Linked DNA regions of Homo sapiens. The protein of the gene in region 1 interacts with the protein of each later gene in a biochemical or structural test. Each region holds a gene or a part of one and is shown on either strand. Other genes may lie near its edges. The genes, in order: PANX1 and CASP3.

Region 1 (7,290 bases):
TAACAGGACCAGGGAAGACCTATTAGATTAGGTATACATTTAGATAAAACCAGAAGAAGGGCTTTTGAGAAGAGGGGAGAGGTACATAGATTAATACATGGAGTTGGTACAGTGGGAGGGATCATGTCATGCAGCATTTAATTTTGTGTAGTTAGTAGTATGCACTCAGCCAAAAACAAACCAAAAAAAAGAACAGCAATAAAGGGAGAATGAAGTAATTGAAATGGAGCTGGCACTTTGCCCACCATATTGGCCAGTGAACTCAGGCCCCGGGAAGACACTGAGATAAGGCCTGCAGACTTAAAACATGGCTTCATCCTTCCTCTGTTGATAATTACTGCTTCCCTCTCTGGTGCTTGGAATACTCTTTTGTTGAACTTAACACAGAGCTTTATAACCTGTCTATGCATGTTTTGCATGGAGATTGAAACTACTCTATAAACATTTGTTGTGAATTAAAGGTGATAGCTTTTGGCATCATCAGACCTTGCTAATTGATTGTTATGTGCATGATGCTGTACCTTGGCAATGGGGTGTCAGACACACGTAGGACATAAGAATCTTTCCTCTGGAAGCACGGTCTAGTAGAGAAGTTGAACGCATAACCCTCCTAATGCAGGATTCATGGAACCTGGGCAGTGTCAGAAGTGTGTACTAAAGCCTGATGCTGTGGAAAGGCAGAAGGAGGGGTTTCTTCTGACTCATGAACAGTGAGAGTTTCAGGGCAGAGTTGGCCCCTGAGGCAGGATTCCAAGTGTGTGGAGCAGTGTTGGCTGAAGCTGAGACGTGTGAGACAACATGTGGCTGCTGGAGCTTTAGTGGCACCGTCACATGGAGAGGTGGGAGCCAAAGTAAGGGTCCAGGGGCTCCACATGAAAGAAGGCATAGCAAATCCCATTGTTTTCCTGTTTGTGTTGGGGGGGTGGTGTGTGTGTGTATAAAATTAGAAACGAGAAAATCAGCTGTAATTACATGTTTTTCCTTTTTCCACCTGTATGATAAACTAGTATATATAAGAATTCATCTCTTTTGATATAAAATCCCCTCAAGCGTAAAATAAATTATATTTTCCAGTTACTTTCCAAAAATTAAATTTTCTGTCAACTGTTGTTTGATAAAATAGGGTTCAAGTTGAAACTTTGTGGCGATTTTTCCTTTAAATAAATGATTTTTTACTTTAAAGAAAATCTATTAAATCAAGAAATGTGCATGGATTGTGCTTTAGATTTAAGAGCAGGTTCTCTGTGGGGGTGGGAGTGTTGTAGGTTAGAGAGAGGGAATGTCCTCATATGATAAAATACTTGGCTTCATATTAAAGGCTTCCGTTTGGTCTTTGGCCTTTTCTCTTAGTAGTTCAGCCCACTGGGCTCCTCTCAGAAAAGAGGGACTGAGCCTGCCTGGGCCACAGAGACCCATGGGCATAGCAGCAGGCTGATCTTTATCAAGCCCTGCTGGGTGCCAGCATGGTGGCTGCAGGTGAAGCGTCCACTCCTCAGAGGTTCTGGCCCCTTCCCTCCCACAGCAGTTCACGCAGGTCCTGCATGGTAGGCACTGGTGTGGGGCTACCTGGGCTGGTGGGGACTGTGTTGGGGACAGAGAGCAGAAGGGACTCTGCCTTGCTCATTCACCAGATCTTGGTCTGGCTGCCCACAATCACAGGTTGAGGGTCACTGCAGAAGTGATGTGGTCTGGAGGGGCATGGCAAGGCTGGTGCCATGGTCAAGGTGGAGGCAACTTTGGTAGTCTTTGCGGCAGCCACTCATTGGTCCAGATGTGCCCTGTGATAGTGAGAATTACAAGCAGAAACCCTCCTGAGGGAGTGGCAAGGAGACTCTTCTGAGTTGTGCCTGGGAGCATTTTGAAGGCTTTTGGACAGTGAGATACTAAGGATTGAATGTAAGAACTAAAATGTGCACCTGTCTGGTTAGGCCTGATACTTCTAGTCAGCCTTTCTAAAATACTGCAGGTGTGCCTCCTCTGAGATTCAGCTGGGTAGGGGGAAAATAAGTGACACACAGCAAAAGACAGTTTAATTGTGAGTTTGGGCTAGAAAGGCTGTGTGGTGGGAGCCAGAGAAGGGAGAATCAGTGGTTTCACCAGCCCTCATTTTTCCTTCCTCTTGTCTTCTACCATGTCTTGCCCTCAACAAGTGCTCCATAGGAATTTAGTGAAGGAAGTGCCAGAGCACACTAGGGAACTCTCCCAGAGTGGCTGTGCTGAGGGAATGGACGGAGTGTTCTGGATAAGGGTCCCAGTTGCTTGGAAGTGCGCCCTCTGAGTGCCATTTAATGATACAAGTGCTGTCCTGGGTCAGGCCTGTCCTGGCCACCTCCCAGACACCTGCCTCTGATGATAGCAGTAAAGGATGCACATCGTCATGATAGGTAAGTTGTCCCACTTGATTTATAAGCTCAGGTTATATTGCGTGTGCCTCAGATTCTTTTTTATGTTATTTTTGTGATGAGGAAGAATCTGTGTTCAGAGTGCAGAATGGTGTACTGTGGAAGAAGGATGAGTGTGATCTGTGTGGCTTGGGTACCCTATGGGTGTCACCTTGTGCAAGCTGCTGGGAGACAGTGCCTTGAGGCCCTTCATTTCTAACACATCTACTCTCAGATGCCTCTAGAAGTGCTGCACATTTCATTGATGGGGGGAGAGGTTTAGGAAATGGCTGGGCGACAGCTTTGTGTAGAATATAAGCATGATTGCATGACGTGACCTTCAAGCTCTGAAATTCTAGAAGTATTTCTCTAAAGTTATGAATTCCCTTAGTGTGCTGCAGTTATGGACTGAATGTTTGTGTCTCCCAACCGCAAAATTCATATGTCGAAGTCCTGATCCCCAATGTGATGCTAATTGGAGATCCCTTTGGGAGGTAATTAGGTTTGGATGAGATTATGAGAGTGGGACCTTCATGATGGGATGCCCTTAGAAAAAGAAGAAATCCCTCTTTCTCTCCCCCCTCCCTCTTCCTCTCCCCCCTCCCTCTTCCTCCTTCTCTCCCTCTTTCCCTCTCTCTCCCACTACCCCCCTTCCTCTCTTCTTCCCTCTTCCTCTCTCCACAAGTGCGGCCACAAGGAAAGGTGTGTGAGCACGCTGGGAGAAGGGGGCCATCTGCAAACTAGGAAAAGAGCTCTCACCAGACACCGAATCTGCTGGTACCTTGATCTTGAACTTCCCAGGCTGTGAGAAAATAACTGTTGTTTAAGCCACCCAGTCTGTGGGATTTTCTTACAGCAGCCTGGTTGAAGACAAAACTATCAACAGACCAGACTCTGAATGGGATTCATGTTTAAGGGGTCTTTTGACAGGGCCTCCTGTGCCCTGCGCTTAGGGCTGTACAAGGCCTGAGGCGTCAGGGGCTGCTTTGATTCCCTGGTGCCTCATGTGGCACATATCCCCTGGGAAGGAGAGCCCGTGTCTCCTGCCAGGATGTTTCTGGCTGGCTGGACCAGGTGGGGAGCTGGGGCAGCCAGTAGTCTACTAGGGAAAGGGTGTCTGGTCAGCCGGGGACCCTGCCTCCCTCACCCACTGACCTCTTAGTGGGCAGCCACCGTTCTGGGTAGAGAAGGACTTAGTCTTTCTGAGTTAGCACTGCTCTTTTGCTATCATTACAGGGCAGGCATTGGGCCAGCCCCAGTGAGTCAAAGGATAGATATAACTGCAGCTGCTTCCAATATAGTTTGCTTGGAGTTCCCCTTTCATTTCCTGCAACTGAGTCAGCGGCTGGGTGGCTTAAGTTATCTGCTCTGTTGTGGCTGAATTTAGACCTGTCTTTGGGAATATCTTCAGGCTGCTTTTTAGCATGTACCAGCTGGCAAAGCAGATCGATTCTTTTCAGGGTTGTCTATCAGAGTGGGCCAATATTTAGGGTCTCATGGCATAGGTCCTATAATAGAACATCTTCAACTCACACTAAACCAAAGAGCCAAGAGAGACTCCTAACCCCTCCAGAAGGATGCATGCTGTCCAGAGAGTCTACTGTTGGATACATGTTTTACTTTGTTAATATTTTTCTTGTACAAGTAGTAGCTAAATACATCATCATGGTAAAGGATTCATAAATCTCTTTCACTATGTGCTGAAGGTAGGTGGACACTTTGTGCAGCCTTATTGCTGTACTTTGTCTGCATTAGCATAACGTGTACACCTTATTTTATTTTTTAAAACAAATCGAGTCATACCATAGTGGCTTGCTTTTTCTCACTTAGTATGTTTGGAGAGCTTTCCGTGCCAGTACATAGGTGTCACCTCACTGTTTTATAATAGAACAGTATTCCATAGCTTAGAATATACTTACAATTCATCTAAGCAGTCCCCTAATGATGGACATTTACTTTCTTTCAAAATTTCTACTCACACATAAAGCTTGTTTGCATGAAAATCTTCGTAAATATTTCTCTCCTCCCAGCATTAAAAGGAAAGGAGACTAGTCGCAGCAGTATCAGTTTCCAGAAGGATGACATCATTTTCCGAATAGTTTTGCATTCCTGCGTTCCTATTTGAAATAAGTGGAAGAAAAAAAAAAACCACTGCCCTGTACACTATCCAGCTCTGACTCCCTCAAAATGTGACTGCATTAGAAGTTTGGAAGAAGCATTTTGATGTGCTCTTGGTTTTAAGAAAGAAAGGGCCTCCTTCAGGGGGTAGAATTGCAACTTTAAGTAGAACTTCATGATACATGTTCTCCTAACACTGTAAGTTTCCTTCCTAACATTTACCATAACTTGAAGTTAGGTAATTACTTGCATACTTATCTGTTGAATACTGTAAGTTCATTTAGGGCAGGGACCATGTGTCCTTAAAACTTGATACATATCGGCCGGGCGCGGTGACTCATGCTTGTAATCCCAGCACTTTGGGAGGCCGACGTGGGCGGATCACGAGGTCAGGAGATCGAGACCACGGTGAAACCCTGTCTCTACTAAAAATACAAAAAATTAGCCAGGTGTGGTGGCGGGCGCCTGTAGTCCCAGCTACTCAGGAGGCTGAGGCAGGAGAATGGCGTGAACCCGGGAGGCGGAGCTTGCAGTGAGCCGAGATCGCGCCACTGCACTCCAGCCTGGGCGACAGAGCGAGACTCCGTCTCAAAAAAAAAGAAAAAAACTTGATACATAGAAGTATTAGGCAGCTCTCACATTGCTATGAAGAAATACCAGAGACTGGGTTATTTTTAAAGAAAAGTTTATGTGGCTCATGGTTTTGTGGGCTGTACAGGAAACCTAGTGGCTTCTGCTTGGCTTCTGGGGAGGCCTCGGGAAACACAGTCATGGCGGAAGGCAAACAGGGAGCAGGCACGTCTTATATGGCAGGAGCAGGAGCAAGAGAGAATGGGGGGAGGTGCTACACATTTCTAGTGGCTCACACCTGTAATCCCAGCACTTTGGGAGGCCAAGGCGAGCGGATCATGAGGTCAAGAGATCGAGACCATCCTGGCCAACGTGATGAAACTCCGTCTCTACTTAAAATACAAAAATTAGCTGGGTGTGGTGGCGCATGCCTGTAGTCCCAGCTACTTGGGAGGCTGAGACAGGAGAATCGCTTGAACGCGGGAGGCAGAGGTTGCAGTGAGCTGAGATCATGCCACTGTACTCCAGCCTGGCGACAGAGCGAGACTCCTTCTCAAAATATATAGACAGATAGATAAAACCTGAAAATAGGCCTTAGGACCTTCATGGACTCTAGGTTTGGATTAGCAACATCCCTTTAAAAAACCATGCAAACACCTTTTTTCTGCAGCTGGTTGCTTTCTTGGATTGCTTCCTTGTCAAACCCCTAACTGAGGCAGCGAGAGCTTGGTCCAAAGTGGAGAAAGGGAGGCAATTTGGGGGCATTTGCCCTGGCTAAGCTAGGAACTCTGGGCGAGGCAGGCCCCGCTGCATGCTGTGGGGTTTCTGGGGGCAGCAGGGAGACATTAGTTACTTGGGGAGAAGGGGGCCTAAAGAGAATCTACCATCTGCTTGGTACCAGGCACACCTAGTTCTGTGGGGGGTGAAAGGGGTGGTGGGGAGGGGACGCTGTTGTTTTTTAATAAATTCTCTATAAAGCTCACACTCCTTTTTAAAATATAAATATTTATATATGTATATTATATCATTATAAAGATAAAACTTACTGTAGAAAATATGGAAAATACAGAAGAGAAAATAGCAGTACATCTATAATACTACCAGGGATAACTACTATTCTTGAAAAACCAAACACTAAGTCAAGGCCATGTTACCATGTTCCTAAATTGTTGTACATGATTTTTTTTGTTGGCAGTGACATGGAATGTTGTGCACGTGTCAAAATTTAACTGTTTCACAAGTTTTGTAATATAAATAGCATTGTGAAGAACACTCCTGTACATAATAAACCACCTCTCTAAAGATCTCAGTATTTCAAGTGATTGTATAATTCTAATTACAAGGTCAAAGTATACATAGACATTTTTAAGATTTGACTGGTGTGGTTGGGTTGCCCTCTGGATAGACCCCCAATGGATACTTCTCCCCGCAGCTGAAGGAGTGGCTTTCCCCACAGCTGGCAAAAGTTAGTGGATTATCGTCCACAGCTTAATAGGTGAACAAAGGTGTGCCATTGTTTTAAGTCGCATTTATTCAGTTACGGCATTGAATGTTTTTTCGTATGTATTTTTTCCATTTATATAATTCTGTGAATTGTCTGTTCTTATCTTTTGCTTATTTTTCCAAGGGGATGTTGGTTTCTCAATGGGTTTTATTAACTATTTCTATGTTTCAAATATTTTCTAGCTAGCCTTTATTGTATTTTCTTTTCCGGTTGTCCGTTTCCTTTGAATTCTGTTTATGTTAAGCATTTTTGTTTTTTAATTTTTAATTTTTGTTGGTATGTAAAGGTATATATTCATGGGGTATGTGAGATATTTTGACACAGGCATACAATGTGTAATAATCACATCAGGAGAAATTGGGTATCCATCTCCTCAAGTATTTATCCTTCGTTACAAACAATCCAGTTGTACTCTTTCAGTTATCTTAAAATGTAAAATTAAATTATTATTGACTACAGTCACTCTATTGTGCCATCAAATACTGGATCTTATTCATTCTATTTTTATGCCCATTAACCATCCCCATTTCCCCTGACAGCCATCCCTCAGTAACCTTTACAGTATAAGTTTTGATAAGCAGAAGTTATTTTAAGTCATCAAAACTACCCATCTTTTAATTATTTCTTCAGTTGCATTATGATTAGACTGTCATAGCCCATCCTTAGGTCTATCAGTTTTTTAAAATGATCTTTAATGATTTTATTTGAACATTTACC
Region 2 (5,542 bases), on another chromosome or scaffold:
CAAGCTGTTTATTGAATTTAAGGGACATTTGGGTTTTCTTTTTTCTGTGAACTGTTTGTTCATGTCCTTGGCTCATTTTCCTATTGGGTTGCTGGTCTTTTCCTTTGTATCTGAAACCTCTTTACTTAACAGGGAGACTAGAATAAGCCAGATTTTCCTCAACACTATAGAACCACCGCTTTCATATGGCCTTAAAGAACTCATTTATGCTACTCTCTACTCCTCAGAAACAGAAGTCTCCTTTTCCTAGTTAGGACAATTTATTTTGTTTCTGATTTAAAAGTAATATATTTTCATTACAGAAATATTGGAAGAAATTTAAAACCACCCACAACCCCACTTTCCTATATTCCTTTTCTAAGCATATGAAGTAAAAAGACAGCAAATTCCTCTGTCAAAATCCCAGCGCCCAGAGGAGGCCATCAGTAAACATCAACGGCTTGTTGTATATCCTCTTAGGTTGTTCTTCCCATTAGACACTTATCTTGTGGAAAAAGTTTCAAATTCACACATATGGTCATATTTAAGGCCTGAGATCTATGCAAACAAAGTATCTTCCTGGCATTGTGGTCATTTCAGGGTCAGGAACTTCTGCGAGGACTTGGGAAGCATAAGCGATCTGTCTGCCCTGATCTAACTGCCACCACCTCAAAAAACTAGGCTAGGGTTCTGGTGCTTCCTCTTTGACTCTTCCAAATCAAGCTTCTGATTAAAAACATTTTAACTTCCAATTAGTGGCACAACATCAAAAACAACAGCAACAAAAAACTCAAAGACATTGGTAATTTTAAGTTTGAATGTATATTTTGAAATAAAAATGGAAAATAACAAATTTGTACAAAATTGTCACATAGAAACACACTTTAAGATACCATTACATGCTATGTGTATTTACAAAAGTTACAGGTCTAGTAAGAAAAAAGAAACTGTCATTGACAAATGCGAGCTCATTTTTTGAGCAACAAGAAATCTCCCGTGAAATGTCATACTGACAGCCAGTGAGACTTGGTGCAGTGACGGCTCCGCACCTGCTGAGGCCTGGAGCCTGCCTCCCGGGCTGAGGGCTCAGCTCTGGCCTCCGGCTGGATGCCGTCTAGAGTCCTATGTGCTCATAGGTCTTTTTCTTTCAGTAAACAGTATAAAACATTACTATTTTCCTTTGATTGTAAACTTCAACAGAAAATAACATACTTAAGAATTTTGCTACAAAGAGTACTATGATTTTTATTGCCTCACCACCTTTAGAACATTTCCACTTCACAAGTTTCTGATTTGCTTCACTTTCTTACTTGGCGATGGCGCCCTGGCAGCATCATCCACACATACCAGTGCGTATGGAGAAATGGGCTGTAGGCCCTTCCTGCGTGGTCCATGGCTCTGCCTTCATGGAACAGGCTGAGTCATGTCTCTGCTCAGGCTCAAACCATCTACTCTCAAGTTACAGGCAGCTCAGCCCATTCATTTATTGCTTTCCTTATATTCCACTGTTTATTATTTAAGTTGTATTTTCATATGTTCCTATAGAATTTATTCACATTACCTGGCTAATAATCAACAGTTTGGGGTTTTTATATAATAGCTCTTCAGATATATTGCTGGTATATGAAGCTCAACTGATATGCATAGGGACAAATCAGAAGATATTTATGCTGGTAGATCCAGGGGCATTGTAGCACCTTACAGTTAAAACTCCACCCCTCTATGAATGTTAAGTTTTAGCCTTAAAAGTCAAGTTAGTTTGCTCACACTTTCTCTCACATAAAATATTAGTTTCTTTCTCAATATTAAACATTATTATTATTTTTTTACAACAAAAGTGTTCAGGACAAACATCACAAAACCATAATCCCAGATAAATGGTCTAAAAATGCAGTTAAGTCATCCGTGTATATCAATTCTAAAATAAAGGTTTGAGCCTTTGACCATGCCCACAGATGCCTAAGTTCTTCCACATCATCATTTCTACAGTTTGACAAAACTAGAATACACAGTCTTAAGTGGGGGGAATATCATAAAAATTCATTACTTCAATGTTTAACTTTTTCACAATTACTTGAAAATTCATAGCACAGCATCACTGTAACTTGCTAATCATGAAAGCTGTAAATTAACAATCATTGCCTCTCATAATGACTGCACCAGTATCCATTTTTATTTATTCCTAATTTAATTCAATTGCAACTACCTGACTGGAAGTTTGAGGTAGCTTCATAGTGGTTCTATTTGATGGAAGGAGTATGTCTTAAAGTACCCTCTGCAGCATGAGAGTAGGTCAAAATGAGAGGGAAATACAGTACCAAATATACCATCTTCTCACTTGGCATACAAACTAAAAAAAACCACCAACCAACCATTTCTTTAGTGATAAAAATAGAGTTCTTTTGTGAGCATGGAAACAATACATGGAATCTGTTTCTTTGCATGAAAAGTAGCGTCAAAGGAAAAGGACTCAAATTCTGTTGCCACCTTTCGGTTAACCCGGGTAAGAATGTGCATAAATTCAAGCTTGTCGGCATACTGTTTCAGCATGGCACAAAGCGACTGGATGAACCAGGAGCCATCCTTTGAATTTCGCCAAGAATAATAACCTAAAAGGCAAAATACAAGCAAAATACCATGGATAGCTGATTTTAGTTGATTCTATAAATTATTATGTAGTCATAAAGGCAAAAATAAGCATAAACTTACATAAGTCTTATTAGTCATACAAATAAAAAAAAAAAGACACCTTTGGTTTCAGAAGAAATGATGCTGAAGGACGAATGTGTGCTATGCGTACACCCCCTGCTTTCAGCAAAGCTGGCCGGGGACCAGCTTCACGAACACTGAATTATTGAAAGTTTTACTTTCTGGACTCCCCTTTCAATAGGCAAGAAGAGCAAACACGCAGAAGGTAAGATGCAAAAGTAAAGATGTATAAAAAGGATCATTGTAAGTAGCACAGTGTTCCAATCAGATTTCACCTTATTTTAATACTGACTTAGCCAAGAAACAAATTGCTTTGAGTGTCCTACTTGTCTACAGAGCATCTGAATAAAGTATAATAAACACACTACCAAGTATTGGTCCAAAAAGGGAAAATAGTATATTTATCATACTTTTTTTTCTAGGTTAACTATTAGACCCATTGCTTTTAACTTAGAGGTACTTTGCTTGGAAAGATGCCTAGAGGATAAGATAAACCATATTGAGCATATTTTAAAATGCAACACTGCTTAAGAATACATTTACCTAAAGTTTCCAAACTCTCCGACACCCTTAGCTGTGTGAGTAAATGGTGGTATAATCCACAAATGTTTATTTAGATGATGACGTGTGCAGCAGAACAGTAAAAACGTGGAGGTTAACGGCACATTCATGTATCGTTTTTTACCTTCTTTTCTCCCACTCCACATCTATCCTCTTGTATACTAGTCATGTTTATCTTTTTTATTTACTACCTTTCAAATAACTCCTGAGAAACGTACCTCTCTTCTTCTCTAAGATGCAGGGGAAGCTCTGACTTGGCCTCTGTTGCCACGTAATATTCTACCTGATATTAGTAGCGGAGATCTACCTGATAAAGTCCAATGAATGACATCGTGCTAGTCTACTCTACATATGCATATTTTCTTTTCTTTTTTTCCTTTGAGACGGAGTCTCACTCTGTCGCCCAGGCTGAAGTGCAGTGGTGCGATCTTGGCTCACTGCAACCTTTGCTTCCCAGGTTCAAGCGATTCTCCTGCCTCAGCCTCCCCAGTAGCTGGGATTACAGGCGTGTGCCACCATGCCCAGCTAATTTTTCTGTATTTTTAGTAGAGATGAGGTTGGCCAGGCTGGTTTTGAACTCCTGACCTCAAGTGATCCACCTGCCTCGGCCTCCCAAAGCGCTAGGATTACAGGCGTGAGTCACTGTGCCTGGCTATATATGCATATTTTCTAGCCAAACTTTTGGCTAAAGACAACTTTTTGAGACTTCTCTTTGATGAAGGTTCCCTAAAATATAGACAAGTTTTGATATCTTTAGGGATATCAAAATCTTGACAGTCTCTGAAACACACTTTTCATTGTATAATTCTATGATCAGTCACAGTTAATTCATTTAAAATCCACATGTAACATTCATTATGTGTAACGTTCTCACCAGGTGCTGTGGAGTATGCATACAAGAAGTCGGCCTCCACTGGTATTTTATGACACGCCATGTCATCATCAACACCACTGTCTGTCTCAATGCCACAGTCCAGTTCTGTACCACGGCAGGCCTGGGTGTTAGAAAATAAATATTTATTTATAAAAATTTGTGTGTGAACACATAACTTAGTTCTAAAAAATTGAAATGCTATGTAAAAATGGATGTTAATTGGCCGGGCGCGGTGGCTCACGCCTTTAATCCCAGCAATTTGGGAGGCCAAGGCGGGCGGATGACTTGAGGTCAGGAGATCGAGACCATCCTGGCTAACATGGTGAAACCCTGTCTCTATTAAAAAAAAATTTAAAAATTAGCTGGGCCTGGTGGCAGGCGCCTGTAGTCCCAGCTACTCAGGAGGCTGAGGCAGGAGAATGGCGTGAACCCAGGAGGCAGAGCTTGCAGTGAGCGGAGATCGCGCCACTGTACTCCAGCCTGGGCGACAGAGCAAGACTCTGTCTAAAAAAAAAAAAAAAAAAAAAAAAAAGGATGTTAATTATGCTGAGTCTTTTTGATATAAGTATAAAATTAAAATTTACTCTATATCTTTTAAGTGGTAAATAAATGAAAAGTAACAATAGTTCATTAGCTTCAGGAAAAAAATTATCCTTTGGATAATTTACAGTTGAGAATAGTAACCCCTGCTTAATCGTCAATAACCAAATCACTCAGTTAGACATTACCTGAATAATGAAAAGTTTGGGTTTTCCAGTTAGACTTCTACAACGATCCCCTCTGAAAAAGTTTGTTATTTTTTTCAGGTCAACAGGTCCATTTGTTCCAAAAATTATTCCTTCTTCACCATGGCTCAGAAGCACACAAACAAAACTGCTCCTTTTGCTGTGATCTTCTTTAGAAACTGTAAAGACATTTGCAAATAAAAGGAAAAAAAATCCATGACTTTATTCAACAACTTCAGATATACTGTATGGGAACATGATGAAGAAACTGAGACTAAAACTAAGAGGTCATCTTAACCTAACCTGGGGCACGGCAACACATCTCAAACCATTTTAGGAAGTTGGCATAAATAACTTTTTTTAAACTTCTTACTAAAGTATGTAAGATTAGGGTTATGTACAGTATAATTCCACAATTCTCATATTTTATTATACATATAATTATTGCTAGACCATAGTATAAAATTAATTGTACAATGAAGTTCATTCTAATTGTTTCTTCTTACCATCACGCATCAATTCCACAATTTCTTCACGTGTAAGATCATTTTTATTCCTGACTTCATATTTCAAGTTTCTGAATGTTTCCCTGAGGTTTGCTGCATCGACATCTGTACCAGACCGAGATGTCATTCCTTGGAACAGAAAGAATTACTTTTAATTGTATGGAAAACAAAGAATAACTACTTTGAAA

What was found.
Region 2: of the proteins of PANX1 (region 1) and CASP3, one has a biochemical effect on the other in vitro, tested with the Homo sapiens proteins (2 studies listed by IntAct).

The regions. Positions count from the first base shown.
Region 1 is NC_000011.10:94,131,679-94,138,968, forward strand, and holds part of PANX1 (pannexin-1), read left to right. Parts: intron 1-7,290. UniProt on the Homo sapiens protein: Ion channel involved in a variety of physiological functions such as blood pressure regulation, apoptotic cell clearance and oogenesis.
Region 2 is NC_000004.12:184,626,914-184,632,455, forward strand, and holds the end of CASP3 (caspase-3 isoform a preproprotein), read right to left. Parts: intron 5,484-5,542; coding exon 5,355-5,483; intron 5,028-5,354; coding exon 4,852-5,027; intron 4,245-4,851; coding exon 4,124-4,244; intron 2,589-4,123; coding exon 2,359-2,588; 3' UTR 783-2,358; downstream 1-782. UniProt on the Homo sapiens protein: Thiol protease that acts as a major effector caspase involved in the execution phase of apoptosis. Following cleavage and activation by initiator caspases (CASP8, CASP9 and/or CASP10), mediates execution of apoptosis by catalyzing cleavage of many proteins.